Homo sapiens: one gene and its partners. The protein of the gene in region 4 purifies or fractionates together with the protein of the main gene of each other region. This does not show direct contact. Each region holds a gene or a part of one and is shown on either strand. Other genes may lie near its edges. The genes, in order: SLC25A13, SDHA, HADHB and EMC2.

Region 1 (7,899 bases), on a different chromosome or scaffold from region 4:
TAGACCAGCAGCTTCATTGAGGGACCTTTTAAGGCCACATTTACTGCACTGCCATTGAGTTATAATGAAGGACATGATAAGAAATGGCCTTATGTAACCCACAGACATATATCTGTGGTCACAAGGTAGATTCAAATGCCGTTCACTCACAGCATATAAAAGAAACTGCTCGGCTGGGCGTGGTGGCTCATGCCTGTAATCCCTGCATTTTGGGAGGTTAAGGCAGGCAGATCACGAGGTCAAGAGATCCAAGACCAGCCTGGCCAACATGATGTTGGCCTACTAAAAATACAAAAATTAGCTGGGTGTGGTGGCACGTGCCTGTAGTCCCAGATACTTGGGAGGCTGAGGCAGGAGAATCACTTGAACCCAGAAGGCAGAGGTTACAGTGAGGCAAGATCATGCCACTGCACTCCAGCCTGGCAACAGAGCAAGACTCCATCTCAAAAAAAAAAAAAAAAAAAAAACTGCTCTCAGAGAGCAGTATAAGGAGACTTCTCTCCCAAGTAAATGACCTCACTGATCATTTCCTCTTTGCTTTGGCTGGGAGAAAATGCAATCACCTCTAGTAAGCACATAATGTTCCACTAACCTTAGTCCTGGCTTTGTCTTACTTTCCCTTTGTCCTGTTTTTCCCATCTACTTGGAATTGATTTTTATATATCTTATTGGATTGCAAAATAAGTATATATGATGTGAGCCATCAGATATCACAGAAAGAGGTGAGTGCAAATGAAGACATAAACAAAAACACAAGCTCCCAAGTAGTAAAAATGAACATTTCATTTTCCCTGACTCAATACTTAGCTAAAAATCAACTGCCCTTGATATGTGACACTTCTACTATTATGTAGAAGTACAACCAAAGAGTTGAACTAACTTCCATATCACTTATTTTATGTTTTGTCGTTGTTGTTATTTGTTTTTGAGACAGGGTCTTGCTCTGTTGCCCAGACTGGAGTGCAATGGCACAATCTCGGCTCACTGCAATCTCCGCCTCCTGAGTTTAAGCGATTCTTCTGCCTCAGCATCCTGAGTAGCTGGGATTACAGGTGCCCACCAGCACGCCTAGCTAACTTTTTTGTATTTTTAGTAGAGACAGGGTTTTGCCACGTTGGCCAGGCTGGTCTCGAACTCCTGGCCTCAACTGACCCGCCCGCCCCAGCCTCCCAAAGTGCTGGGATTACAGGCATGAGCCACAGCACCAGGTCACTTATTTTACTTAATATTACTCAAGTCTTATACTCCATTTCTATGCACACGTCTCAATTTATGTTCCTCAATTACCTTATCTCCTAATAAAGTAAAAGTATTTACATTACCTGCAGATATAAAACTAACAGTAAAGAATGGGTACCTAGTCCCACCTACTCTAGGGAATTAGTTCATACCAAGCCTTGTACCTTGGTTGCATGCAAATTTAATGCAAAAAAAAGGTCAAGGGCTATTGGGCTTGAAAGGGTTAAGGCAGCTTCCAAAATTGAATCCTAGTGATGCTCAGAGAAACTGCTGAAAAGTTATAGATAGATATACACACGCACACCTGTGTGTTCATATGCAAACATACATGAGCCCACACACCCAGAGTACTTTCCTAAGGATGAAACTCAGAGTAATTACAGAAAAGAGAAATGCCACTTAGACCACAGAAACTAACAACATGAAGAAGCCTACGGATTTGGGGAGCCTGGAGAGACTTAAGTCATAGAACAGCATTTAAATATATTTGTCTGCTTACAATTTCCATTGCAAATGTGATTAGTTTGCTTGAATAAATAGGAATATGATGTGTTGGCCATGTTTTCCTCTTGAGGGTTATCACAGAGTTTTGATTAAGGACAAATGTTTGAAATGTTAGGTATATTTAAGTTCACTGCACTTAAAATGAGCTAAGAAGTTGTATAGGCTTGATTAGAGGGCTGCCTTCGTGAACTTAAATTAAAAGCAATAAATTCCAAATGATTCAAGTGATTGGGACTAAATATGGTATTCTGCCAGAGAAGTTGAAATGCAGTCCAAAGAGACTGAAATGGTGTCCAGGTTTCAAGAAATGGTGAAAGAGGAAAGGTCAAGTGTTGGAGTTGCCTTTCCTCTGGGTTAGTGAATGATTCACATTACACAGAACCCCTTTCAAGTACAACTTCACAGGAGTGACAGGCTCCCAGGACAATCTGTTTCATCGTTCCCAAAAAGAAGCCTCTCAAATGCTCCGAGGCGGGTATCTAAGTGTTGTCAGATGGAGAGAGGGAGGGGGAAGATGGGAATGATGGGAAAGCGGGGAGGGGGAGAGTCCCTGGACTTTTTATTCACAAAGGCGCAGACCAAGTCTCCTAGGCAGTTTCCAAAACGGAAGTCAAAGTAACTTCCCCACCCGCGGGAGGGCGGAGCCCTTGAAACGTAATAGGATCAGGCTTCAGCCCGGGCTCTGGCCCCTGGAAGAAGCCGGAGTCAACAACCAGCGGGGTCAGGAGCAGGAGCGCGCTGGGAAGGTAGAGAGGACCCCCAGCGCTTGCCGGCCCAGGGTGCACCAGGCCCCAGTCGCGCCCGCTCCTCCTCGTCGGCCCTGGCTCAGCCCCGTCAGGCACCAACTTCCCTCCCCGGCCAAGTGGGAGTGTCCGGCCCACAAAGTTTCCGCTGCGAGGTCGGGCCTCGGTCTCTGCACCGACCGCCTGTGCTGCCCGGGAGGAGTGGCCCCCTCCCTCCAGCAGCCGCAAGGTGGAACGGCTGCCCGGCACCCCATTTTGCTCCGCCTGTGGCACCAACCCAGACACGTGAGCGCCCGAGCCTCTCGCACCCCCAGGCTGATCCGGCAGGCGCGCTCCCCCCGGCCTCGGGCCCGCGGTTACCTTGGCGGCCGCCATGATTCGCCCCGGTTGCGGGCGACTGCGGGACCCACTGACTGGCTGGCTGGCGTTTGGGACCCGGGCGGCTCACTTCTAGTCCCGGCGGCGGCGGCGGTGGGGGCGGCGATACGGCCAGGCAGCGTGCGTTCCTGGCCTGCCTCCCCACGCCCTCCCGCCGGCGCGGGTCATGTGGATGCTGCCCGCCCATTGGCTGGGCCCAGCCTTGGCCGCCGGGGTGCGCGTGATCCAGCGGCCTCTGCCCTGCAGCCGGGGAGGGCTCAGATCCTGGGGCAGTGGCTGGACAGGGACACGTGACCCCGCTGCGCTGTCCAGCAGCGGCGGCCTCTGCGGCGTGGGCAGAGGTAACTTGGCCGTGTGCAAGCCCGTCACCTGAGGGCAGGTGGCCCCACCAGGGAAGCTGCTGGCTTCTGCTGATACCAGGGGCTACTGGGCCCTCGGACCGATGGGAGGGGCAAGTAACGACAGATGGTGCACGGCCTGGGGAAGTTGAGAACTCCACTAGGACACATACTTTGCTGGATATTTTTTCCCCTGTGCGTTCCCTTTGAAGGAGCTCCACTTTACACTGGATCCAAAAAGACTTTGATCCAAAAGCATTGACTTAGAAGGCGAGATTGCAAATATTGCTGGCACGCCTACTTTTAGATCAAAATCGGTGAACTCTTAAGAACCCAACAAGTGAATGTAGTGCAGAACGTATATTCATGAAACTACTCCATTTCAGCCCTACCTGTTAAAACGGTAGAAGTCAAAAGGCCCGGGTCAAAAGACTTCCCCCAAATAGGCCCTACTAAAATAAATAAACAAGCATTTTAATGAAAATTTGCTTATATGACCTCCAGGCCTTACTCCTCTTCATCAGGATTTCATTCTTCTGTCCTTGTAATCAAAATTTATAAGACAGTGGTGATCAGGGAAAAGGACTTTTAATGTATTGTAGGTTGTGGATGTAATATGGCAGCAAAAAGCACTTATTACTAATCAGTTTAATTCATTAACGTTGATTGAGTGCCTTCCTACTATGTGCTAGGCACTGTGCTTGGTGCTGGAAACCCCGAAATGACTTAAGAACTGGTTCCAACCGTTAAACAGCTTCAGGGCTATTGGGAAAGAGACACATAAATGTTTACTTCAGTATAACCTGTTAAGGCAGCAGACTGTTCCCAGGGCTCAATAAGAATACTGAGAATTCTCATGCCACTATGAAGAAATACCTGAGACTGGGTAATTTATAAACCAAAAGATTTAATTGACTCAGTTTCGCATGGTTTGGGAGACCTCAGGAAACTTACAGTTGTGGTGGAAGGCACCTCTTTACAGGGTTGCAGGAGAGAGAATGAGTGCCAAGCAAAGGGGGGAAAGCCCCTTGTAAAACCATCAGATCTCATAAGAACTCACTATCACAAGAACAGCATGGGAGTAACCGCCCCCATGATTCCGTTGTCTCTCACCGGGTCCTTCCCATGACATGTGGGGATTATGGGAACTACAATTTAAGATGAGATTTGGGTAGTGACACGGTCAAACCATATCAAAAGGTAACTTGATCTTGAGCTATGGGATTGGGGCAGTGGCACGACTAGTGGAAGGAGTCTGGCCCAGCAGGTAGGGGCTGTGTCATGGTGGGTCTTAGGCGCCTTGCTGAAGGGTATGCACCTTAACTGAAGGGTTTTAAGTCAGGAAGCAGCATGACTAGGTTTTCGATATAGAAAGATCTCTCTATGGTCTGAATGTGCCCCCCAAAATTGATGTGTTGGATACAATCTCTAATGCATCAGTGTTGGAAGGTTGGGTCCTTGGGGAGGTATTTTCATCACAAGGGCTCTGCCCTCATAAATGGATTAATGCTGCCATAAAAAGAGGTTTGGGGAGTGGGTTCACTCTCTCTTGCTCTTCTGCTCTTTTGCCATATAAGAACATAGCATTCCTCACCTTTGAAGGACACAGCATTCAAAGAGCCATCTTGGAAGCAGAGAAACCAGGCCGTAACCTGCCAGCACTTTGATCTTGGACTTCCTAGCGTCTAGAACTGTGAGAAATACATTTCCGTCCTGTTCTTCTAGTCTCAGGAATTCCCTTACAGCAACACAAAATGGACTAAAACACTGCTTGCAGTATGGAGGATGGGTTCCAACTGAACTACCAGGATGTCCAGACGAGACAGGCTGGGGATGGGCTAGGACTAGAGGAATACATAGAAGGTAAAATTAGTGGGGTTGGGACGGAAAAAGGGAGTTGTGCCATATTGCACATAGACTTGTGGTATGGGTGTCTGGAAAAACACCTGAGATTGGTAATTCAAGAGGAGTGTTTTGAGGTGTGTGAGTCTGTCTGTAAGGAGAATGTATGTCCAACATACAAATTATGTTGTAGAAGCTTAAGAAAGAAGCATTACAGAAAGAAGCAACTATTTAACCTACTCTCAAAAGGTTCAACAAAGCCCAGAAGACTTGACCATGTTCATAGGCAGAGAAGAAAGATCAGCAAAAAGTAAAAAAAAAAAAAAGACAAAAGGAAAACCAGGAGAATTGTTAGAGAAAATTATGACAAGGGGACAAGTCTGAAGCTCCTGTGGAGGATGGCCCCAGCTGCCACAAGGGGAGTGTAAAAGGAGGTGAGAAAATACAACCTCATGTAAAGAACAAAATTACATCATGTACCACGTATTTATTTTTAAGGGCATCATTAAAGCTCTCCTTTTATAATGTAAATGAAACAAAAAATTTTTAATGTAATAAAATATACATAAAATGTACCATCTTGACCATTTTGAAATGTACAGTTTAGTAGTGAAATACTTTCACATTGTTGTGCAGCCAATCTCCAGAACTCTTTTCATCTTGCAAAGCTGAAACTCTGTACTCATTAAACAACCACTCCATCTCCCAACCCCCTGACAACCACCATTCTACTTTGCTCCTATAAATCTGACTACTCTAGGTACCTAATAAATGGAATCATATGGTATTTGTGTTTTGTAGCATAATGTCTTCAACCTTCATACATGTTATATAGCATGTGTCAGAATTTCCTTCCTCTTCAAGGTTGAACAATATTCCATTAATTTTTTTAATAGAAAAAGTCCATTATACTTCTTCTTGACATTTTTGAAAATTCAGAAAATCATAGTAATGGCCAAAAAATCACTGATAATCCTATCAATAGAGTTAGCCATTGTTAACATTCTACTGTATTTTTTCATGTCTTGCTGTGCTTATGTGTGTGTATCAAGACATATTTATTTTACTTTATTTTTTGTTTTTGTATTTCTTGAGACAGGGTCTCACCCTGTTGCCCAGGCTGGAGTGCAGTGGTGTGATCTCAGCTCATTGCAACCTCCTCCTCTTGGGCTCAAAGGATCCTCTCACCTCAGCCTCCCAAGTAGTTGGAACCACAGGCATGCACTGCCATACCCATCTAAATTTATATTTTTTGGTAGAGATGGGGTTTTGCCATGTTGCCCAGGCTGGTCTCAGACTCCTGGGCTCAAGCAATCCTCCTGCCTCAGCTTCCTAAAGTGCTGGGGCTACAGGCATGAGTCATTGCGCCTGGCCTATTTTGTTTATGTATTTATTTTTAAGACTGTTGCCCAGGTTGGAGTGCAGTAGCGTGATCTCAGCTCACTGCAGCCTTGATCTCTGGGGCTCAATTGATCCTCCCATTTCAGCCTCCCAAGTCGCTGGGACCACAGGCACACACCACCATGCCCAGCTAATTTTTGTATATTTTGGTAGAGATGGGGTTTTACCAGGTTGCCCAGCCTGGTCTTGAACTACTGGACTCAAGTGATCCACTCACCTTGGCCTCCCAAAGTGCCGAAATTATAGGCATGAACCACCCACCTGACCATATTTTTGCATTTAAAACGATGAATTATACTCTGTGTTAGTTTCCTGTGGCTGCCATAACAAATTACCACAAACTTGGTAGCTTAAAACAATAGAAATTTGTTCTCTTACCATTATGAAGGCCAGATGTCCGAAGTGAGTCTTGTGGGGCTAAAATCAAAGTGTCAGCAGGACTGTTCTCTCTCAGAGGCTTTACAGGAGAATGATGTTTCTTTGTCTTGTCTAAGGGCTCATGGCACCCTTCTTCACCTTCAGAGCCAATGGGCATAGCACCATATATCTGACTCTGCTTTTATCACATGACCTGTCTGTCTGTAACCTTCCTCTACCTCCTTTTTATAAGGACATGTGTGATTGCATTTAGAGCCCACCTAGATAATCCAAAGTACTCTCTCCATCTCCAGATACTTAATTTGATCACATCTGCCAAGTCTGTACTGCATAAAGTACCATTCAAAATCTCTAGGGATTAGGATCAGGACATGGACATATTTAGGGGGCCTATCATTCAGTTTACCAAACCTACCACACTATGGATACATATTGTAAAAGTATATTTCAATTTACATTTGGAGTCATACTTACTTGATTAAGCTCCCCTCCTCATTCTAGAATTCCTCAAAATATGAAATTTTAAAAATATTAAACTGTCATGAACCTAGAAATAAAGAAGTCAAAGATGCTCCCTGGGCTCCATTTCATCTGTAAATAACAGCATGATGTGAAACATCATCTAAGAAGATAAAGTGTGAACTGGCTAGGTATCTTTCATTTTTTCTTATCATTACAGGCTTACATGCCCTCCTGATATTTGTCCCTCTTCACTATTCCCAGATTACCCTCTTTCCTACCATTAACAGTAGCTGGCACTGAATTTTGACTGAAAAGGCCCTGTTATGGATTAAATTGTGTCATCCAAAAGTCTTAACTCCCCAGTACCTACGTATTAGTTTGTTCTCATGCTACTAATAAAGACATACCCAAGACTGGGTAATTTATAAAGGAAAGAGGTTTCATTGACTCACAGTTCAGCATGGCTGGAGAGGCCTTAGGAAACTTACAATCATGACAGAAGGGGAAGCAAACATGTCCTTCACGTGGCAGCAGAAAGGAGAAGTGCTGAGCAAAGGGGAAAAGCCCCTTATGAAACCATAAGATCTCATGAGAACTTACTCATTATCACTCAT
Region 2 (7,025 bases), on a different chromosome or scaffold from region 4:
GCCAGGTGTCCCTTGCCCTCATTCTGGTAAACCAACAGCCTTCTAGCGTGGGCGTCATGGCCATCAAGAGCATGTCACAGTGCTGCAGAGATTTTGTTTATGGTCAGTTTTGGGCCACATTTGGGGGCCTGTTCCCAAAAATTTACCTCATTTCTTTTTTTTGCTTCTTACTATGAATAGCCAGACTCAGCAGAAAAATCCCTTCCCCAACGGAACGCATTTCCACGAGCAGAGGAAACTCTGTTTGTTCAGTGCTGACTCCAGCATCTCGTGGAGCCTGGGATACAGCAGGCACCAAGACACACCATGTTTGGTGGGAATGCTTCTAGTATTCTCACTTTAAACTATCTCATGGATTTGCCATTTCTATATCCGAAGGCATGTTCCCATTCTCTAATGCAATGGTTCTTTCTTTCCCAGCTGGCCTCCAACCCTACAATAGTACTGCAGGGCATCACTCAGCCTTCTGTGCCTTAGTCACACTGTTCTTCTCACCATTCCACAAAGCCTCCCTGAAGCCCAGCTTCACTTGAAGACTGAAGGGCACAGGCCTCTGAAAATGTCAGCAGGGAACCTGTTCTCCTGTGTCTAACACCACATAGGTGTTAGACACCTATTTCAGAATAGGACTAAAGCAATGGACTTTTTAGAAAATACACAGAAATTCTTGCAAATAGTAGGCAAGAGATCTCATTCATGGACAAGAATCCTTGTTATTAGAGGAATTCAGTTTCTTAGACTGACCATGTATCAGGTTCTCCACGGCCCCATGGCTAATGGCTGCCATACTGGATGGCAAACACTCGGAACATTTCCATCATCACAGATGGTCCTACTGGACCGACTCCCAGCAGCACAGGCCACAGATCAGTTTCCACCTGCCGCCCACTCTCCCTCTCTTCCGAGTATATTTAGAGGCAGCAACAAGTCCAGCTTAAAGACATTTCCGAGCTGCTGGAAGCCAGGCATGATGACATGATCGATATCCGGGCCTGAGATGTAAGCACCAGTGTTGTGTTGAACTCCAGGAAACCTCTAAGAGAAAGCTGCCCTGCTGGGGACTGAGCTTCTCCAGCGGTCCTGCAGTTCCCTCTCCTCCACGCTGTGACTCATCCATGACAGCCAGCAATGGTCAGGTCACGGAGGTCACACCCAAGCACACACGAGTGAACCACAGAAGGCTGTCCTGGATGCCAAGCAGTCACTAATTCTGCCCTAGTCTGCCGACCTTCTATGTGGAAAAGAAGTGCACTTCTGTATAGTTCAGGCCTCCTGGTCTCTTTCATATTCTTGATACGGTGAGGAGTACGTCCTACCGCTGTTTACCTCCAGATACTGGTGCAGCCTTATGTATTTATCGCAGCACTAGTCACAACAGCAAAGTCATGGAATCAACCTAAGTGCCCATCAACGGATGACCAGATGAAGAAAATGTGGTACATATATACCATGAAATACTACTCGGCCATAAAAAAAGAACGCAATCATGTCTTCTGCAGCCACACGGATGGAACAGGAGGTCACTATCCTAAGTGAAGTGACTCAGAAGGTCAAGTGTCACACATTCTCACTTGGAAGTGGAAGCTGAATGGTGAGTACACATGGACACATGGAGTGGAGTAGCAGAGACTGGGAGCTCCAAAAAGCGGGAGGGGTGGGGTTGAACAATTACCTACTGGGTACAACACACACGACTTGTGTGACGGGTACATGAAAAGCCCAGACTCCACCACCTCCCAGTACATCCACACAAAACTGCACCTGCATCCCCCTAGATCTAGTTTTTAAAAAACAAAACCAGTGCAGGGCCAGGTATGCAGCCCTCCTGCTCACTCCAGAGCGAGTCCAGGCTCTTACCTTCTGCATGCTGAGTCGCAGTTCCGATGTTCTTATGCTTCCATCAGCAAATCTCAATTTGTCAAGATTCATGACAGATTCTTCCCCAGCGTTTGGTTTAATTGGAGGGACTTTATCTCCTAAAACAAAAAAAAGCTAGAATTTAACTTTTGAAAACCGTTTTAAAAAACCAAATGGATTTAGAATGACACACAAACATGTAGCACAGCCACTCAAGGAGCTTGGAAACTCTGTAAGTCTCCTGAGCTAACACACTGCCAGCCCACCCTACAGCTGAGGCCATCTGTTGAGTTGGGGCCAATTTTAAAGAACATAAAGGCAAAATTGTTGGCACACAGTAGATATCCATTAAGTGATCTTAGAGTGAATAAACTAGAAATCATCTCTAAAATTAAAAAATTAAATGTAGGCCGGGTGCGGTGGCTCACGCCTGTAATCCCAGCACTTTACGAGGCCAAGGTAGGTGGATCACTTGAGGTCAGGAATTCAAGAGCAGCCTGGCCAACATGGCAAAACCTCGTTTCACTAAAAACACAAAAATTATCTGGGTATGGTGGCACGCGTCTATAATCCCAGCTACTCGGGAGGCTGAGGCATGAGAACTGCTTGAACCCTAAAGGTGGAGGTTGCAGTGAGCCGAGATCGCGCCACTGCACTCCAGCCTGGGCAACAGAGCGAGACCCTGTCTTAAAAAAAAAAAAAATTAAATGTATACAAATTTATATATATTAAGTGTATATAAATGTCACTCCACTAAGGGAAAAAAGAGACACCTTCCAGATGGTGGTCCCAAGGGGCCGGCCACCCTTCACATCAGCGGGGGGAAGGTGGCTGCTGTGTGCTTGAAAGTCACCTGTTGATTTGGACTCTTATGTGCTCTCAACTATACTTCAAGATTAGCAATTTTTTTTTTTTTGAGATGGAATTTTGTTCTGTAGCCCAGGTTGGAGTGCAGTCAGTGGCACCATCTCGGCTCACTGCAACCTCCATCTCCGGGTTCAAGCAAGCCTCCTGCCTCAGCCTCCAGAGTAGCTGGGACTACAGGAATATGCCACCATACCTGGCTAATTTTTTGTATTTTCAGTAGAAATGGGTTTCACCATGTTGGCCAGTCTAGAACTCCTGACCTCAGGTGAGCCACCTGCCTTGGCTTCCCAAAGTGCTGGGATCACGTGTGAGCCACTGCGCACAGCCAAGATTTGCAACTCTTGTGTTTCTACGATGTCTTGAAAAAAGTTTTTAAGTTTTTTTTATAACGTTATATATATTTTCTTCAACAGGTAATACATGCAGGAGGTAGGATGTATGAAATGCAGGAGTCAAACAGGCCCCACCCCGCCCACCACCTCTCCACAGGACCAGGCTATGGGTCTCTTGAGGGTCTGCTCAAATGCTTCTAGGCTCGCTGGTGTTTCTCTTCCTTTTGATAATAATGCTTTAAAAATTGATCATTCAGTAAAATTGACTTTTTTCTTTAGGTGGACAGTTCTACAATTTACTTTTTCTTTTTTTTGAGACAGTGTCTCCTCCCTCTCTTGCCCAGGCTGGAGTACAGTGGTGTGATCTTGGCTCACTGCAACCTCTGCCTTCCAGGCTCCAGCAATCCTCCAACCTCAGCCTCCCAAGTAGCTGGGACTACATAGGTGTGAGCCACCATGCCCAGCTAATTTTTGTATTTTTGGTAGAGACGGGGTTTCACCACGTTGCCCAAGCTGGTCTCGAACTCCTGAGCTCAAGCAATCTGCCTGCCTCGGCCTCCCAAAGCGGTGGGATTATAGGCGTGAGCCACTGCACCCAGCCTCAGTTCTACCAATTTTAACACATGTATAGGCGCATGTAACCACTTCGGGAGGCTGAGACAGGAGGAACACTTGAGGCCAGGAGTTCAAGCCCATCCTGGGCAACACAGGGAGACCCTGTCCCTACAAAACATTTTTAAAAATTAGCCAGGTGTGGTGGTGTGCACCTGATCGTACCACTGCACTACAGCCTGGGCGACAGAGGGAGACTATCTCTTAAAAAAAAAAAATACATATATATGTGTATATATATGTATTTTTTTTTGCAGGGGGTTTTGGGGGAGAATAGTGATGCTACAAGCATTTTTTCTTTCCTTTTCATTTTTGAAAATTAAAGCATAAAGATACAGTAAAATAAACTCATCATTTTTAGTGTAGGGTTTTTCAAATTTTGACACACACAGAGTTGTGTCTGTAAGTCTCAGCACAATCAGGAAGCAGCCTCTGGCAACCACCAATCCCTTGTCTTCCCTAGATGTGCCTTTTCCAGAATGTCGTATCAACAGAACCACAGGCATGCAGCCTTTTGAGTCTGACTCCACAGCATTCTGCGTGAGATGCTGCATGCGTGGGCGGTTTCTCAGATGTAAAGTATAGGGTATTCTTACAAAATGTTCTTTTTTGCATTTTCAAAGAAAGAGCAGCTCAAAATTTCTACATTGCTCTGAGAGAAGTGGTATCAGTCCTCACTGCGACAAAGTGCAGGGCTATGGAGTGAGACAAGCACTACCTGCGGCGTCAGGAACGATGGACCTGAACTCCGCCTTCGCCGATGATCACCAATGGCTGGGGATGAGACGCCAGCTCTGCGTGTGCTGGCCTCCCGAGCGGTGGTCAGATCCAGAGACAGAGTGTCTGAAGTAAGCTACCCTTTTAATACTATCTGCACCTTTCTAACTACAGATACAAAAGGGGGCACGTTTATAAGTTACAGCCGTGCTAGTTTTTATTTCACTTGAATCCATACAAAAAGCACCTGTTGTATAAAAACAGCAGAAATGATGCTAACAGTTAACACCAGAGAAAGGTAACGGGAAGAACATGGGCCTGGGGTCCCACCATCCTTGCCACGCAAACATCCACCAGTGCCTCATCCACCTCACACTGTTCTGAGCACACGAGGCTGGATAACCACCGTGAGGATGTCTGGAGGTGGGAGAGATGCTAACTGCCCCGTTCTTAGTGCACGTAAGACTCACACTCCCACACATGGTATTTCCTTTACTGCACATTATTTGATGCTATCATGAAAAGAAAACCAGCAAGTGAAATCCAATCTGTCCGTAAAGGGTGGGAATCCTGTTCACTGTAAGTCATCCCTTCTCCTCTAATAGAGGCTAGCTGTACTTTGTTTCTAGAATGGCCTAAATTACTTTTCTAAGTACCAAGAAGTTACATATTCATTCATGCCAACTACTTAAAATATTTCATTGCAAATAAGTGATTTTTATCAGGCAAGTAATATGTAATGATTCCCCTAAAAATAACAACTTTCTAATAGTGCTTTTTCTAAACAGAACATAATGACTGCAAAATAATTAAAAAAAAATGTAACCCCAAAAATGTCACCTTAACTGTTAAGATCCCCAACCAGCCTCTATCTAGTCTCAACATTACCACCATATAATTTCTGGATTTCTCAGTTTAATCACTTCTGGGGGAAAAACCCAGACTACCTCTATATGATCACTAAGCAAATTTCCAGTAAGAAATCAAGGCTTTGTAACCTGGCTGGGTGCAGTGGCTCATGCCTGTAATCCCGATACTTTGGGAAGCTGAGGCAGGACTGTTTGAGTCTAGGAGTTCAAGACCAGCCTGGGCAATATTGTGAGACCCTGTCTCTACAAAATAAATTTTTTTAAAAATTAGCCAGGTGTGGTGGTGCACATCTGTAGTCCCAGCTACTTGGGACTCTGAAGGTTGAGGTGTTGAAGACTGCTTGAGCCCGGGAGGTTGAGGCTGCTATGACTGTGCCACTGCACTCCAGCCTGGGCTGACCCTTTCTCAAAAAAAAGAAAAAAGACTTTCTAACGTCCTGCGCCTTCTCAAATAGTCTGGCTCCTGAAGAAAACACTTACCAGGCCTGCATGACTCTTCGATGCTCAGGGCACATGCCCGACCAAAGACAACCAGGTCCAAGAGCGAGTTTGCCCCGAGGCGGTTGGCACCATGTACCGAGGCACAGGCGGCCTCCCCACAGGCGTACAGGCCGGGCACAATCTGATCCTGGCCATTCACGTGCCTCAGGACCTGTGGAAAGGAAGATTTCAGGTGAAATGTCAAGGTGCCCATGCCTCCACCAGCCCACCTTCCCCAACAGGGTGTCTGTGCTGCAGGTCAGAGAGAGGGAAGTAGGCCAGGCGTGGTGGCTCACGCCTGTAATCTCAGCACTTTGGGAGGCTGAGGTGGGTGATCACCTGAGGTCAGGGGTTCAAGACCTGTCTGGCTAACACGGTGAAACCCCATCTCTACTAAAAATACAAAAATTAGCGGGGCATAATGGCGGGTGCCTGTAATCCCAGCTACTAGGGAGGCTGAGGCGGAAAAATCACTTGAACCTGGGAGGCAGAGGTTGCAGTGAGCTGAGATCGCACCACTGCTCTCCAGCCGAAGCAACAGAGTGAGACTGCATCTCCAAGAAAAAAAAAGAGAGGGAAGTAAAGACCGTATCTAAGAGGGAAGTAAGGACCATAGCTACTCTTCTTCAGAGGGAAGCTTCCGAAGGTATCCCCCAGTTTCCCCTCTGCCCCTGAGCACCTGCTGTTACAAGCAGGTCAGAGGACCTCCAATGTCAGCATCTGCGACTGTCCCCCGTGTCCCATGTTCCCGGGGCCCTCACCACCTGTGCTCCGGCTCAGACCCAGGAGCACGGCAGGTGGAGGAACATCAGCAGGGGAGACTGATGTTCCAGACTGTTCTACCCCGTTCACCTCTTCGTCTACGCAGGGAGAGCAACAGCTTCCACCCACCTCGCCCAACAAGGAGCCTAAGTGACTGACAAGCTCTGTGTGAACCACAAACCACTCAAAGGAATGAATTATAAAGATCCCTTGATGTGTAAGATCATTAGAAATAACACAAGATCATATAGGAAAGTAATTACAAAATGGAAAAAGCTGCAAATGATGTATCTCTGACAATTTACTAAGGAGGAATAAATTATTAAGCCCCCTCCATCCTCCGGTAATAGAAATTTAAAGTGCAATCTAGAAAACAATACAGTACTTTCTTGAAGGAAACATCTATCTTTTCCTGTAAGATCTAAAGAGACAACTGCGAGGTGGGCCCCGTCGTCCCAGCCTTCTTTCCAGCTGTGGGGGAGGAGCCAGCACCATCACCTGCCCCTTGTAGTTGGTGGGAATGCCGCCC
Region 3 (7,025 bases), on a different chromosome or scaffold from region 4:
TCTGGATCTATTATTTTGGATAAGCTTCCACTATCATAGCATGGCCCTGTAAAGAAAACAAAGTCCAATTAGAGCAATGAATGGTGATGAATCCACCTAGTACAGGGACAGCAGAGAACAAGGAGAAAAGTACAGGCTTTGGAGTGGGATCCTGGCTCTGCCAATCAATCACTGTGATCTTGGGAAAGTTTGTAGTCAGTCTAAACTGGAATTTCCTCTACAAAATGGGGCTCATAGTGTCTACTTCATAGAGTTTTTGTGGGCATCACATAACATACAGTATATTTGTATATGTGTGTATATATATACACACACATATATATTTATATACATTCATATATACATGTATACATATATGCATCAGGCTCTGTCTAGTACAGAATCTAATTCCTAGTGATGCTCTACAAATGGATGCTGTTAAAATGAGAAATCCAGGGGCTTTTTTAACTGTATAAACATAAACATGATACAGCAAATACCAATAAAAGTAAGTTTCTAGAGGGGAAAACTGAGGCTCTGAAAGGTTAAGTGACTCACCCAAATCACAAAGCTATTAAGGTAACAGGGCCAGGATTTGAAACCAGGTCTAGATGATTCCAAAGGCTGGGCTTGTCCCTTCTTCACTATTCTACACAGGTTAAGATAATGATCTGAGGGACCACAAAGGGAAGAAGTAGAATATCTTTCTTTTTTTATTTTTTTTATTTATTATTTTGGAGACCGTGCCTCGCCGTTGCCCAGGCTGGAGTACAGTGACGCGATCTCAGCTCACTGCAAGCTCCGCCTCCCGGGTTCACGCCATTCTCCTGCCTCAGCCTCCCGAGTAGCTGGGACTACAGGCGCCCGCCACCACGTCCGGCTAATTTTTTGTATTTTTAGTAGAGATGGGGTTTCACCGTGTTAGCCAGGATGGTCTCGATATCCTGACCTCGTGATCTGCCTGCCTCGGCCTCCCAAAGTGCTGGATTACAGGCATGAGCCACTGTGCCCGGCCAGAAGTAGAATATCTTTTATCCAGCACTATGCACAGTGCTATGTACTAGCTATGTCCTTAGTTTAGATGAGTCTAAATCCTAGCATAGAATTTTTAGACACCCTCTAAAAAACAAAAAAGTAAATAAAAGAAACTATTATTTACAAAGTGCCAAGTTGAACACTGCAGGTTTAAAGATTTGCCACATGGTCTTTGTCCTCAATCAAGTATACACTGGAGTTCAAAACAAACTGTTAAGTACTTGGTTTTTCTGTTTTTTTTGAAACAGGGCCTCCCTCTGTCACCCAGGCTGGAGTGCAGTGGCCTGAACACGGCTCACTGCAGCCTCAACCTCCCGGGCTCAGGTGATACTTCCACCTCAGCCTCCCGAGTAGCTGGGACTACAGGCACCCACCACCACGCCCAGCTAGTTTTTGTATTTTTAGTAGAGATGGGGTTTTGCCATGTTGTCCAGGATGGTCTCGAACTCCTGAGCTCAAGCAATCTGCCCACCTCAGCCTCCCAAAGTGCTAGGATTACAGGCATGAGCTACCACACCTGGCATGTTAAGTACATTGAAAAGGCACAAGCAGACAAAAAAAGAGCAGGGATAGGAAGGTTTGACTGACTTGGGGGTTGTCCTGAAAGAATTCATAATAAGGTAGACTACTCCTCTCTGGCTTGCTTATTTTATTTTTTATTTATTTTAATTTCTTTATTTGCTTTTTGAGACAAGGCAACTCTGTCACCTAGGCTAAAGTGCAGTGGCGTGAATACAGCGCACTACAGCCTCAACATCCCGGGCTCAAGCAATCCTCTCACCTCCCTCCTGAGTAACTGGGACCACAGGTGCGTACCATCATACCTGGCTAATTTTTGTATTTTTGGTAGAGACGAGGTTTTGCCATGTTGCCCAGGCTAGTCTCGAATTCCTGCGTTCAAGCCACCCAGCTGCCTTAGCCTCCCAAAATGCTGCGATCACAGGCATAAGCTACCGCACCCAGCCCTCTCTGGCTTTATTTTAAACACACTGTTTTCATGTTCCATGTTTTTTCTTGCTCTAGATCAGATTTGGCAACACCTGGAGATACTTTTGGTTATACCAACCGTGTGTACCTGGGGCAGAGGTGGGGAGGAGCTTGTTGCTACTGCTATCCGATGGGTAGAGGCCATGCTAAACACCCTACAACACACAGCCCCCCAAAACAAAGAATTGTTTGGCCCAAAATGTTAGTGCCAAAGTTGAGAAACCCTGCTCTAGATTCACCACGATGGATTTCTCCTCTGTCTCCAACCATGTTGGTATTGCTCACGTGGCTCTTGATCAAACAATGTCAAGTTTAATCTAGTTTCTCAGATGCATCTTATCTTCTCTCTTCATACTATAAACTTCTAGAAGAAAGGTGCTAGGTATTATTCCTTGTTCATCCATAAAAGCATCCAGTATTGTGTTATTTATACTCTACATGCTAGATAAAGAATTAGGGAACACATACTCAAATCTGCAGACATTACCCTATGTGGATTACGCACTATGCTCGTGAGTAATGTGTACAGGTTATCTCCCTGGTAGAAGCCTGGCATGAAGAGATAGAGGGATCGCTCTAGTCTTAATGGACCATGGTTTTCTGTAGATGAAGTTACACAGATTAAAAAGCATTTGTGATCATAAAGTCCAAAATGTTCCAACTGATAAATAACTGACCCCTTGGTTTCTGCAAAGTCTCTGAGGAAAATCCATGAAAAAGGGCTTTTAAACGTAAGATTTATTTCATTTACTTTATTTTTGAGACAGAGTCTCTCTCTGTCACCAGGCTGGAGTGCAATGGCGCCATCTCGGCTCACTGCAACCTCCACCTCCCGGGTTCAAGCGATTCCCCTGCCTCAGCCTCCTGAGTAGCTGGAATTACAGGCGCACACCACCACACTAGGCTAGTTTTTATAATTTTAGTAGAGACAAGGTTTCACCATGTTGGCCAGGCTGGTCTCGAACTCCTGACCTCAAGTGACCTACCCGCCTCAACCTCCCAAAGTGTTGGGATTACAGGCGTGAGCCACTGCACCCGGCCAGTTTATGCTTTTAAATATTTATTCATTTTGATCAGGAACAGGAAGTTTCTGTAATCTAGAGGAAGAGAAAATCTGTTCACATCGGGATTAAAAAAAAAAAAAAAAAACAAAAACAGGCCAGGCACAGTGGCTCATGCCTGTAATCCCAGCACTTTGGGAGGCTGAGGTAGGCGGATCACCTGAGGTCAGGAGTTCGAGACCGGCCTGGCCAATACGGTGAAACCCCGTCTCTACTAAAAATACAAAAAAAATTGCCCGGGCTTGGTGGTGAGCACCTGTAATCCCAGCTACTCAGGAGGCTGAGACAGGAGAATCGCTTGAACTCGCGAGGCAGAGGTTGCAGTGAGCCGAGGTGGCACCACTGCACTCCAGCCTGGGGGACAGAGTGAGACTCTGTCTCAAAAAACAAACAAACAAAAAACAAACTACAATCTTCCTTTTGGATTTTATTCCTAGAGTGAGATGCTACAGCAGTCAGGAAGTTGGGTCTCTAATGCAAGTGAAGTAGAAAGGAAAAAATCTGTCAACAATATATTTCCCCAGCTGAACAGCAGTAAGTTATCCAGAAGTAAATTAACTCCCCAGTTAAGGTATAATTCAGTTCTCTAGAAAGATAGTTTCTCTCTTGGAGAGATTTTATAAAGTCTTATGGTGACTAGATAAATAAAAGTTAATTATTAAAGAAGAAAATATATCAAGATGTTAATAATGTTAATGTCTGATGGGGAGATTATAGATGATTCTAACTTTTTCTATATACTTTTCATATATTCCACAATTTTCATAATCAGCATATATTTATAAGTAAAAAATAAACATTATATTGGGGAAAAATAGCTTGGGTTTAAATAGCTGTTTCCTTCCAAAGAATTATCAGAATTATGGCAGGGCATGGTGGCTCATGCCTGTAATCACAGCACTTTGGGAGGCCAAGGAGGGTGGATCACTTGAAGTCGGCAATTCGAGACTAGCCTGGCCAACATGGCGAAACTCTGTCTCTACTAAAAATACAAAAATTAACTGGACATGGTGGTGCACACCTGTAATCTCAACTGCTCGGGAGGCTGAGGCACGAGAATCACCTGAATCCGGGAAGTGGAGGTTGCAGTGAGCTAAGATATTACCACTGCATTCCAACCTGGGTGACAGAGCAAGACTGTCTCAAAAAAAAAAAAAAAAAACCCAAAAAACAAAAAGTTTTATCAGAATTACAGCTGTTATCCCTCCCCACTCCCCACCCCCAGGTCATCAAAAATATTGCTTTAAGAAGGTTTCAAACTAAATCATACATTCTAGTCATTCCAAGAAAATGACTCTCTGGAGGGTCCTATGACACCACTGTAACGTACCTGCCCTCCAGCTGCACACGCAGCCACTAAGCCATACTGGCCTCCTTCTTTCCGTAATCTGTTGGCAGCAGCCATGACCAACCTGCAGCCAGTGGCTCCAAATGGGTGTCCCAGGGACAGAGATCCACCCCAGTTATTAAACTTCTCCAAAGGAGGCAATCCAACCTGGCTCCCCCAAAGACACAAATGTAAAGATAAGTTTACTTAAGATCAGAATCAAGCTAGGCTCTTAGTACTACGAAGTAAGAGAGATAGAGGAAAATACGTAACGTCAGACATATTACAAATAATTTTACTGCAAAAGAAAGTAAGTCTAGGTCAATATTAAAAGTCAGGAGTCCATTTATTTTTCATCTAATGTCAGAATGCAAGGAACAAAAAACACAGAATTTTATTTTTGCTAAATAATTTCTATTTTTAAACTAAGAAATAAATATATTTAATGAAATACAAGAATTTCTACTTTTACACTAAGAAATAAATATCTTTAATGAAAGACAAAATTCTTCAAAAGAAAGAGAAGCTTTCCCTTCATATTCTTAAGAACAGGTAACTAAGATCCAATTATTAACGTGCTTTGAAAATTCACGCATTTTTTAAAATTAGAAACTCACCTTGGTTTTTCTACCCATGTAGTTTTCTGCAAACCAATCAGAATCCATGGCTTTAAAATTTGCCAAAATCTGACCCTGGAAGAGAAAATAATCGAATAAGAACCTCGTTATTCATGTTCCTCTACGCTTTCTTATAGGAATGGTTTGTGAAAGTTTAACAACTTTAGGTATGGTTTAAAGTTGAACAAATCGGCCAGGCACAGTGGCTCACATCTGTAATCCCAGCACTTTGGGAGGCCAAGGCGGGTGGATCATCTGAGGTCAGGAGTTCAAGACCAGCCTGACCAATATGGTGAAACCCTGTCTCTATTAAAAATATAAAAAAAATTAGTCGGGCATGGTGGCAGGCGCCTGCTTGTCCCAGCTACTCGGGAGGCTGAGACAAGAAAATTGCTTGAACCTGGAAGGCGGAGGTTGCAGTGAGCCGAGATCGTGCCACTACACTCCAGCTGGGGCAACAGAGCAAGACTCTGTCTCCAAAAAAAAAAAAAAAAGTAAAGTTGAACAAATCTTTGTATCAGTTTTCAATGGCAATTTCCTAAAGAAGCAATTTGGTATGTTCTCCAACACTGTATGTGTGGCCCTTGCTTCCCTCCCCTCGGGCCCCTCCCAGCAGTGTGAATCAGTACTTAAAATATGCAGGTCCACTCCTGCTCTACTCACATCATAAACCATGCCTTGCTCTCTCCCACAAATATGGATGACATTTTTTATGACTATAGTCCCTTCATATGTGTCTTTCAAATTACTTACCGAGAAAGCTTCATGAAATTCAAAAGCATCAATATCATTCATGGTCAATCCTGCCTTTTCTAGAACTTTTGGAGTAGCATATGTTGGTCTGCAAAGAAAAAATAAGTAATATCTTAAAACTTTAATTTTTAAACTAAGAGCTCCTTCATATTCCCCAAACTGAGTTTTACATAGGTACTCTAATGTCTTTTCACTCATTCTTTGATTTTTCTGTACTGATTAATGAAATGTTAAAGATAAAATAGTGAAACTGTACAGACATGCCCTCTACTCTTATGTTGCAGAGTCAGAGAAATTGATAATAAATAAACAGTGAGGGATAAGGACAAGCTAATAACATGAAGAACTGGAAGAACAGAGTTCAAAGAGCAAGGCAAGGGAAAGGGCTTGACTGATGTGAACGTCACAGTGGAGGCTAGAGGCTACAGCCTTGTGAGGGAACGGAACAGAGTCTAAACATGGGGAGGCTTTTATAAAAGGCTATATTAGGAAGATTGTGTAGCAGGGTGTGTAGCCATATGAAAAAATGCATATGCTATCTTAATGAAAAAGAATATAAGTTGTGTGTGTCCATATATATATGTAAAACTTATAGGAAAAAAATGGAAAATAATCCAAAACTGTAACATGATATACCAATGGAAAGGATTACTACTATTTTATTTATTTATTTATTTTTTTGAGATGGAGTCTCGCTCTGTCGCCCAGGCTGGAGTGCAGTGGCGTGATCTTGGCTCACTGCAAGCTCTGCCTCTCGGGTTCATGCCATTCTCTTGCCAAAACCTCCCGAGTAGCTGGGACTACAGGCGCCCGCCACCACGCCTGGCTAATTTTTTGTATTTTTAGTAGAGATAGGGCTTCACCGTGTTAGCCAGGATGGTCTCAATCTCCTGACCTCGTGGTCTGCCCACCTCGGCCTCCCAAAGTGCTGGGATTACAGGCGTGAGCCACCGTGCCCGGCCAGATTACTATTATTTTTTTTAAAAAAACCACCACATAAACCAATTATGAACTCAGGGCTTAATATACTCTCAAACCAGTGTAATAAACAAATAAATAATAAACCAGTGTTAATCATTTATTAACCAGTATAATAAAACATAGGCAATCAAATACTTGTGATTATAGTCCAAGGATACAAACTGCTACCTACCCAAGTAATAGTTGATCTTTTGGATCCTGAGACACATACATAAAATCCCTAGGTAAAAAAATAGAGAGGTGAGCTTTGGTAATAAAATAAAGAAATCAGAGATGATTTGTTTG
Region 4 (7,025 bases):
TAAAGAAGAAATAAAGGTAATAGCTGTAGGCAACTGCCTGCTGTAATGGGATTATCAGTACATTTAAGTTGAAGTTTATAAATAACTAAGGATTGGCAATGTGCTTAACAAATATAAAATCTTGGAAAGAAGTTATTAAAATTTTGAAAAAATAAAGTGATACTGGCCAGGCTCAGTGGCTCATGCCTGTAATCCCAGCATTTCGGGAGGCTGAGGCGGGTAGATCACTTGAGGCCAGGAGTTTCAGACCAGCCTGGCCAACATGGTGAAACCCCATCTCTACTAAAAATACAAAATTAGCCAGGCATGGTGGCACATGCCTGTAGTCCCAGCTACTCAGAGGCTGAGGCACAAGAATCGCTTGAACCCGGGAGGAGGTTGCAGTGAGCTGCGATCACGTCACTGCACTCCAGCCTGGGTGACAGAACGAGACTGTCTCAAAAAAAAAAAAAAAAAAGTGAAACTAAGGCAGACAGCTATAAGAGGCACTGAATTACTTATTACACAAATATAATTGCTAGAGTAAACACTAATCCAGTGACTGACGGGGAGGAGGTTTGAAGGGGAAAAGGTAGTGAAACAACGTGCAGGCACTATTTTCTTTACAGAAAATGTAAATTTCAAATGGTTCATCATGTTGAAAATGCAGTTACTAATTTCATGTGTACAAAGACGGGATCTTTGTGGTAATAAAGATTAGTAGAGAATTACCTTCAGATGAGAAGAGTTCTTTCACAGAATATATTAATCAGCTGCCTATTACTCGTGGCAGAATAAAACGAAAATGACTGTAATATGAAAGATTAGACTAGATATGGAGAATAATTTATTAGCAGAACTATTCAAAAGGTTAAAAGAAGCTGATATTGACAATACTTTTCTTTCTAAACACTTCTAGATTGTCAATTCCTCCACAATCCCCACTTGTCCAAAGCAGCAATGACAAGTCTGTAGATGCCTCTGTATATTTTTAGTAAAAATAAATTTAAATATATTTATTATAAACAAATACCATAAATATTTGCGGTGAACAGTTGCTATTTTAAAAACTGATTTGTGTCTAAATGAAATTTAACTTTCAAGTCTCTTCTATTTTGTTGAAACATGTCAAATACTGTTGAAGGTAGCATAATGGTTGTTTATTATGAAAAGAGAAAAATAAAAAATTCTAACTAAGGTAATGATAGAATAGGAAAATTTTAACATTTTTGTTTCTAAGGATAGTTTTAATTTTCTTATTTTTTTCAAAATTAAAAATAACTACAACCCCTTTAATCCCTACTCTTTATGATTCTTTAATATTCTTTCATGTAATTTACTATTAAAGGATTCAATAAATATAACTTGCATAAAAGTTAAAGTGTCGTAACACATATTTATCTTAAGGCATTTTATATGTAAAAATCTCAATTATGTCCTATATCAAAACAAAAATTTTACAAAGAAATATTGCTGAACTTTGGAGAATGACATATTTTAAGCAAGATTCATCAGAAGGATATTACAGCAGATAAAACAATTCAAATAGCCCACTGGAATGTACAGCAAAATCCAATTCGACAATATAAACAAAGTCAAAATAATCTGCTTCGGTCAGCTACATATGCTGTGACTTTGCTATCACCAGTAAGGAGTTAACTAGAAACTGAGTTCTTAAACAATATATCCACTGTGAGTATAACAAAATGAAGTTAGAATCTTCATATGCAAGTTTAATAAATCATCATGGTTTATTTAACAAGGTTATACTACATTAGAGTTTTATATATATACATGTATATGTGATATGAAGAGACTGATGTACAATCAATAAGTCTTAAATCTCTCTTCCATGGATTTCCCCCATCTCCCCACTTAGCAGTAAAAGGCATTTTTAGGTTTATATAAACACATTCTTTACAACTGCCTTCTTAACAGAAAATTACTGTAGTATATAAATAGCACTGAGCATTTAGTAAATAAGTTACAGGCCAATAAGTTCAATTGTGCAGTTGTGAAATCTAATGTCAAAGAGTTTTTGAAACCTTAAGACTGGGTGATCTGCAATGTTTCCAACATGTCTTCGACAGCCTTAAGAGAATATTTGGTTTCCTTCTTACTTCGACCTGCAAACTAATTAAAAAAAAAAAAAAAAAGCTCAATTAGGCTCAATTTCAGTGGCAGGTTAAAAATGACAATCTTCACACTGTTAATGAAACTTAACATTGACTATTTTATCACTAGTAGGAAATCAAATATATTCTTTGCTTTTTCAATAAGAATAAAATTTGAGTATTAAGGACATTTTCCTTTAAGGTCTTACCTTCAGCTGAAGTGTACAGAGAGTTCACTGCACACTTGGCCAGTTTAAGTGTTTACATAATATAATAACCCATAAAATCATGTATTTGAAACTATCTTATTCAGACCAAAATAATGAAATAAAAAGTATAATTTTAAAATGCAATTTAGCTTATATTTATGTAGTGTAGCAGTGTGAACCACTTCCACTTGTCTGATGTCTAAACAGATTTTTACAATTTCAAACAAAGGTACAATACAAATACAAGTTATTTCACTAAACATTTTAAAGTTGCAAGTACTCTCTAAAATTATTTAAAGTAGCTCATAATTTTTTTTAAGTTTCCAGATTTATTAGTTAACTAAATGATATGGTTCTGCAAAGAGCTGTCAAGTAAAAACCTATGCTACACATTAAAACAATGTAAACATGTTTTAAAATATGCATTTCTACTTTATTAATTGTAATTTATTTACATTATAAAACTAATTGGGATTGGATTTTACTATGAAAACAAAATAAATACATCAATATATACACAAAATATACCCTATATTTGTGTATTTAAAAGCAAATTCATGGCATATTAAATTCAATATCATACACATAACCGCTGGAGGGAAACACTGTTGAATACCACATGCTGATTTCAAAATGAGTTTGTTAACTGGACTGACAATTCCCATCATTTATCAGTCTGATTTAAAACAAAAGATTTACTAGATAAGTAAGTGTTCCTTGATGGAGATGGGAGAAAGTTTATTGTGTGTGTATGTGTGTGTGTGTGTATATATATATACATATATATATTATATATATGTATATATATTAATTATATATTATGTATATATTTTATATATATATGTTACCTATATATATTATATATATGTATATATATTAATTATATATTATGTATATATTTTATATATATATATGTTACCCATTTTCTCCCTGGTTAAATATGATTAAAATACTTGGTATTAGCAACATCTAGTGTTTTCAAGTTAACATCAAACCACTCAATACATTTTCAAGTGAATGATCATTTCTTCAAGTAACAATGCTGTCTTAAGCACTTAGTACTTGATTTATGATGTGTTTCTTGTCTTCTGTAATTAACTTAATTTGGCAAACTTCTCATGACCTGTTCAGAAAGATTAAGTGATCAAACACAGGTAACATCATAGAAGTAACAAGCTTCAGGAATTGGTAACCTGTCTCTGACCCCTCTGGCTACAGCTTAACATTATGATTCCCTCACTTCCTACACTCTAAACCATTAGATTAGTTTCTGTAGCTGAATCCTGATTTGAAAAAGTAAATAAAGGATGTTTCTAGGGGAAATGCCAGAGGAAAAAGAAAAAAAGCTTCTCATAAAAATCAAGATCACCTTGCCTTTCAAAAGGCATCACGAATTTAAGGAATTCATATGTTAAATATGGTAACAGCAATATCACATTTAAAATTTTGTCTTTTTATAATTTCCCCTGAGGACTAAAGGCTGTGAGGCATGCTTATTACTTCTGTTATCCAGTTAATAAATTCACTTACACAAGGATTTACCAGAAACAGAAAGCTTTTTCATTTACCACCATTTATGAAACATAAATAGGAACGGTCCTAATCAGATACTTAAAGGTCTAATTCTGAGAAAAAGTTTTATGGGTTGGGGGAGGGGTACAGAATAGGACATCACATAGTAACATTACCACGTAACATTTATTCTAATTGCTTTTAAATAGCAAAGTAAAAATAAAAAAAATTATGTAGAGCTAAAACCATAACATGTATTTTTAAATACAGTATTTTTCTTGGTTTATACTTAAACATAAAAATAATACAGTGTGATCTTTTAAAATTAGCTAATTTTAAAGAGTCAACTGAGATGGTGTCAACATTACTCACAACCAGTGCAATTTAGAATAAACCAAATAAATTTACTTGTGTCAGAACAAATAAAAGAAAGTTGGAAATACAAATCTATCACTTCAAATTTAATCTGACATGCAATTATTCTGTCTATTCCAGAATTGTATGGCAATTTAACTGATTAAGTCAGAATCATTTTTTCCCTCAAATCATGATTTAATTTTCTGTTTCCCAAAAGGATAGTAACAGAATCACTGCTGCAATCATAAATATCATATAAATCACTAGCACAGATTTACCAGTGCAACAAAGAAGGATTTATCTGGAAAATCATTGTGAGTAGGTTCACATTAAAGTTTTTCATGTGCATTAATCAAATGTGTCTGCTTCTACTGAACATGCTAAACCAATTACCTAATTGACGAGCAAATAGTAGCCATATTCTGTTTCATCATTAAGTGGAAACAAAGAAAGAAAAGCAGTTCTTGAAACCTAATTTTCCCTAATTTATAAATACGTAGAAAAATCCCATACGAAATATTATATACTCTATACCGGTTTATATTCCTAGATATGATTAAGAAATTCTCACTGAGATCCCAAAGATTTACCTAGTTATCAAGAATGTCATTCTCTGAAAGTTATATACTCTTTTACATTATTCACAAATACTGTATTTTTGTTTTCATACAGTTAGATTTTGCTTAAGTAAATCTTTCATAATTCTCTGTAAGATCTATAAGAAAACTCACCAGAAAAAAACACAAAAACAACCAAACAATAAAAACTTGCTTATCAAATTCAGAGGTCAGTGATTCATGCATTGTAATAACTGAGATACCTTGCTTGGGCTTAAATTTACCTTTACATAATTTGTGGAAAATACATGGGTAGACAAAGTAATAGGAAAAATGAAATGGACTGTAAATGAATGAATCTCAAAAACATGCTGAGTGAAAGAAGCCAGACACAGAAGAGCACATAACCTATGAACTCATTTATACAAAGTTATAGCACAAGCAAAACTAATGTTTGGTGATAAAAATCAGATCAGTGCTTGTCTGTCTCCCAGTGGGGGATGAGGTTGACTGCAAAATGGCAGAAGGAAAGTTTCTTGGGTGATGGAAATGCTATTTTGAGTGGGGGGCTGGTAAGGGGATGTACACATTTGTCAAAACTCAGACTGTATACTTAAAATATATGCACTTGATTACATGTAAATTATATCTCAATATACCTCAAGGGGGTCTTGTCACACTGAAGAGACAGGGAAAAGGAAAAACATAATAACTTATGTTTTAATTTCTTTAATTCTCAGAATATTTCATTATGGCCATCTTGCAGAAGAAAAGATACAGCAAGAGATGTTAGGTAATTTATCCAAGTTTGCATAGCTAATAATTATATCAGAGTCAAAATTTGAACCCAGACAACATGGGTTCAAATCTGTAATCTTCTCTTTACTACATTGAACTAGCTTCCATGGACGGGACTCATGATGGAACACAAAGATGGACAGAAACACTGGATATCCATATGGGGAGCAATGGACCCCCTATTTCACATCATACATAAAAATCAATTCCAGGCCAGATGCGGTGGCTCACACCTATAATCCTAGCACTCCATTGGGAGGCTGAGACAGGAGGATTACTTGAGGCCAGGAGTTTGAGACCAGCCTGTGCAATACAGCTGGACCTCATCTCTACAAAAAATTTAAAAGTTAGCCGAGCACGGTGACATGCGTCTACAGTACCAGCTAGTTGGGAGGCTGAGGCAGGAGGATAACTCAACCTGGGTGGTTGAGGGTGTAGTGAGCCATGATCATGCCACTGCACTCCAGCCTGGGCAACAGAACCAACCAGATTCTGTCTTAAAAAAATAAAAATTAAAAATTAAAAATAAATCAATTCCAAATGGGTTGTGGATTAAATACGAAAAGTAAAAGAATAGAAATTCTGAAGACACACAGAATTCTTTATGACCGTGAGTAGCAAAAGATTTCTTAAACAGAACACAAAAAACACAAACAAATGACTGAGGCATTCGAACACATTTCATTTCAGAACTTCTATTCATCAAGATCATATGAGCAAAAAAGTAAGAAGTTATACATATTTGCTTATACATATAACTAAAAAAGGGCTCATAAGCAAAAAACTAAAGAAATAAGTCATGCAAACCAATGAGAAAAACATTTCACGAAAGAGGACATCCAAATGGCAACTGATCATCAGGGACATGCAAAATAAAACCATGAAGTACCACTCTACACATGTACCAGAATGGCTGTAATTACAAAGACTGACAGAACCATGTGTTGGTGAAGATGTGGGGCTATTAGAACTCTTACCGCTGGTGGGAGTAAACTAATTTGGAAAATTGCCTTTAACTACTAAAGTTAAATATACATACATTCTATGACCCATATTTTCACTCAAAGGTATACAGAACTGCACATATATTCCACCAAAAGACCTGTACAGCAATATTCAGTATAGTTTATTCAAAATAGCCCAAACAGAAAATATTCCAAATGCATAGCAATAACTAAATTATAACATTCATACAATGAACTACAGAAGAAAATGAATGAACTACAGACACAAACAAGGATAAATCCCATAAACTGAATAATGATAGAAATATGCAAGACAAAAATGAATACATACTGGCTGATTCCATAAACTATAGGGTTATAAGTGAGTACTCTTAAGGAATACAAAAGGAGAAATTAAGAGGACTTACCAAGAGAGCTTTGGGATGCTGCAATGTTTATATTTATTAGCCTGGATACATTTACCTTATATTAGTCACTGAAAGGCACATTTATGACTTGCATCCTTTTTTCTGTTATAATTCTTATTTCTATGTT

Evidence for each region.
Region 1: the proteins of EMC2 (region 4) and SLC25A13 purify together in Homo sapiens (affinity purification with mass spectrometry; 2 studies listed by BioGRID, with this or other methods). This does not show direct contact.
Region 2: the proteins of EMC2 (region 4) and SDHA purify together in Homo sapiens (affinity purification with mass spectrometry; 2 studies listed by BioGRID). This does not show direct contact.
Region 3: the proteins of EMC2 (region 4) and HADHB purify together in Homo sapiens (affinity purification with mass spectrometry; 2 studies listed by BioGRID, with this or other methods). This does not show direct contact.

The regions. Positions count from the first base shown.
Region 1 is NC_000007.14:96,319,096-96,326,994, forward strand, and holds the start of SLC25A13 (electrogenic aspartate/glutamate antiporter SLC25A13, mitochondrial), read right to left. Parts: upstream 3,004-7,899; 5' UTR 2,862-3,003; coding exon 2,847-2,861; intron 1-2,846. UniProt on the Homo sapiens protein: Mitochondrial electrogenic aspartate/glutamate antiporter that favors efflux of aspartate and entry of glutamate and proton within the mitochondria as part of the malate-aspartate shuttle.
Region 2 is NC_000005.10:235,309-242,333, reverse strand, and holds part of SDHA (succinate dehydrogenase [ubiquinone] flavoprotein subunit, mitochondrial), read right to left. Parts: coding exon 6,995-7,025; intron 5,907-6,994; coding exon 5,735-5,906; intron 1,977-5,734; coding exon 1,858-1,976; intron 1-1,857. UniProt on the Homo sapiens protein: Flavoprotein (FP) subunit of succinate dehydrogenase (SDH) that is involved in complex II of the mitochondrial electron transport chain and is responsible for transferring electrons from succinate to ubiquinone (coenzyme Q).
Region 3 is NC_000002.12:26,282,939-26,289,963, reverse strand, and holds part of HADHB (trifunctional enzyme subunit beta, mitochondrial isoform 1 precursor), read right to left. Parts: intron 6,961-7,025; coding exon 6,913-6,960; intron 5,848-6,912; coding exon 5,760-5,847; intron 5,082-5,759; coding exon 5,007-5,081; intron 4,558-5,006; coding exon 4,393-4,557; intron 47-4,392; coding exon 11-46; 3' UTR 1-10. UniProt on the Homo sapiens protein: Mitochondrial trifunctional enzyme catalyzes the last three of the four reactions of the mitochondrial beta-oxidation pathway.
Region 4 is NC_000008.11:108,481,599-108,488,623, reverse strand, and holds part of EMC2 (ER membrane protein complex subunit 2), read right to left. Parts: intron 2,113-7,025; coding exon 2,026-2,112; 3' UTR 1-2,025. UniProt on the Homo sapiens protein: Part of the endoplasmic reticulum membrane protein complex (EMC) that enables the energy-independent insertion into endoplasmic reticulum membranes of newly synthesized membrane proteins.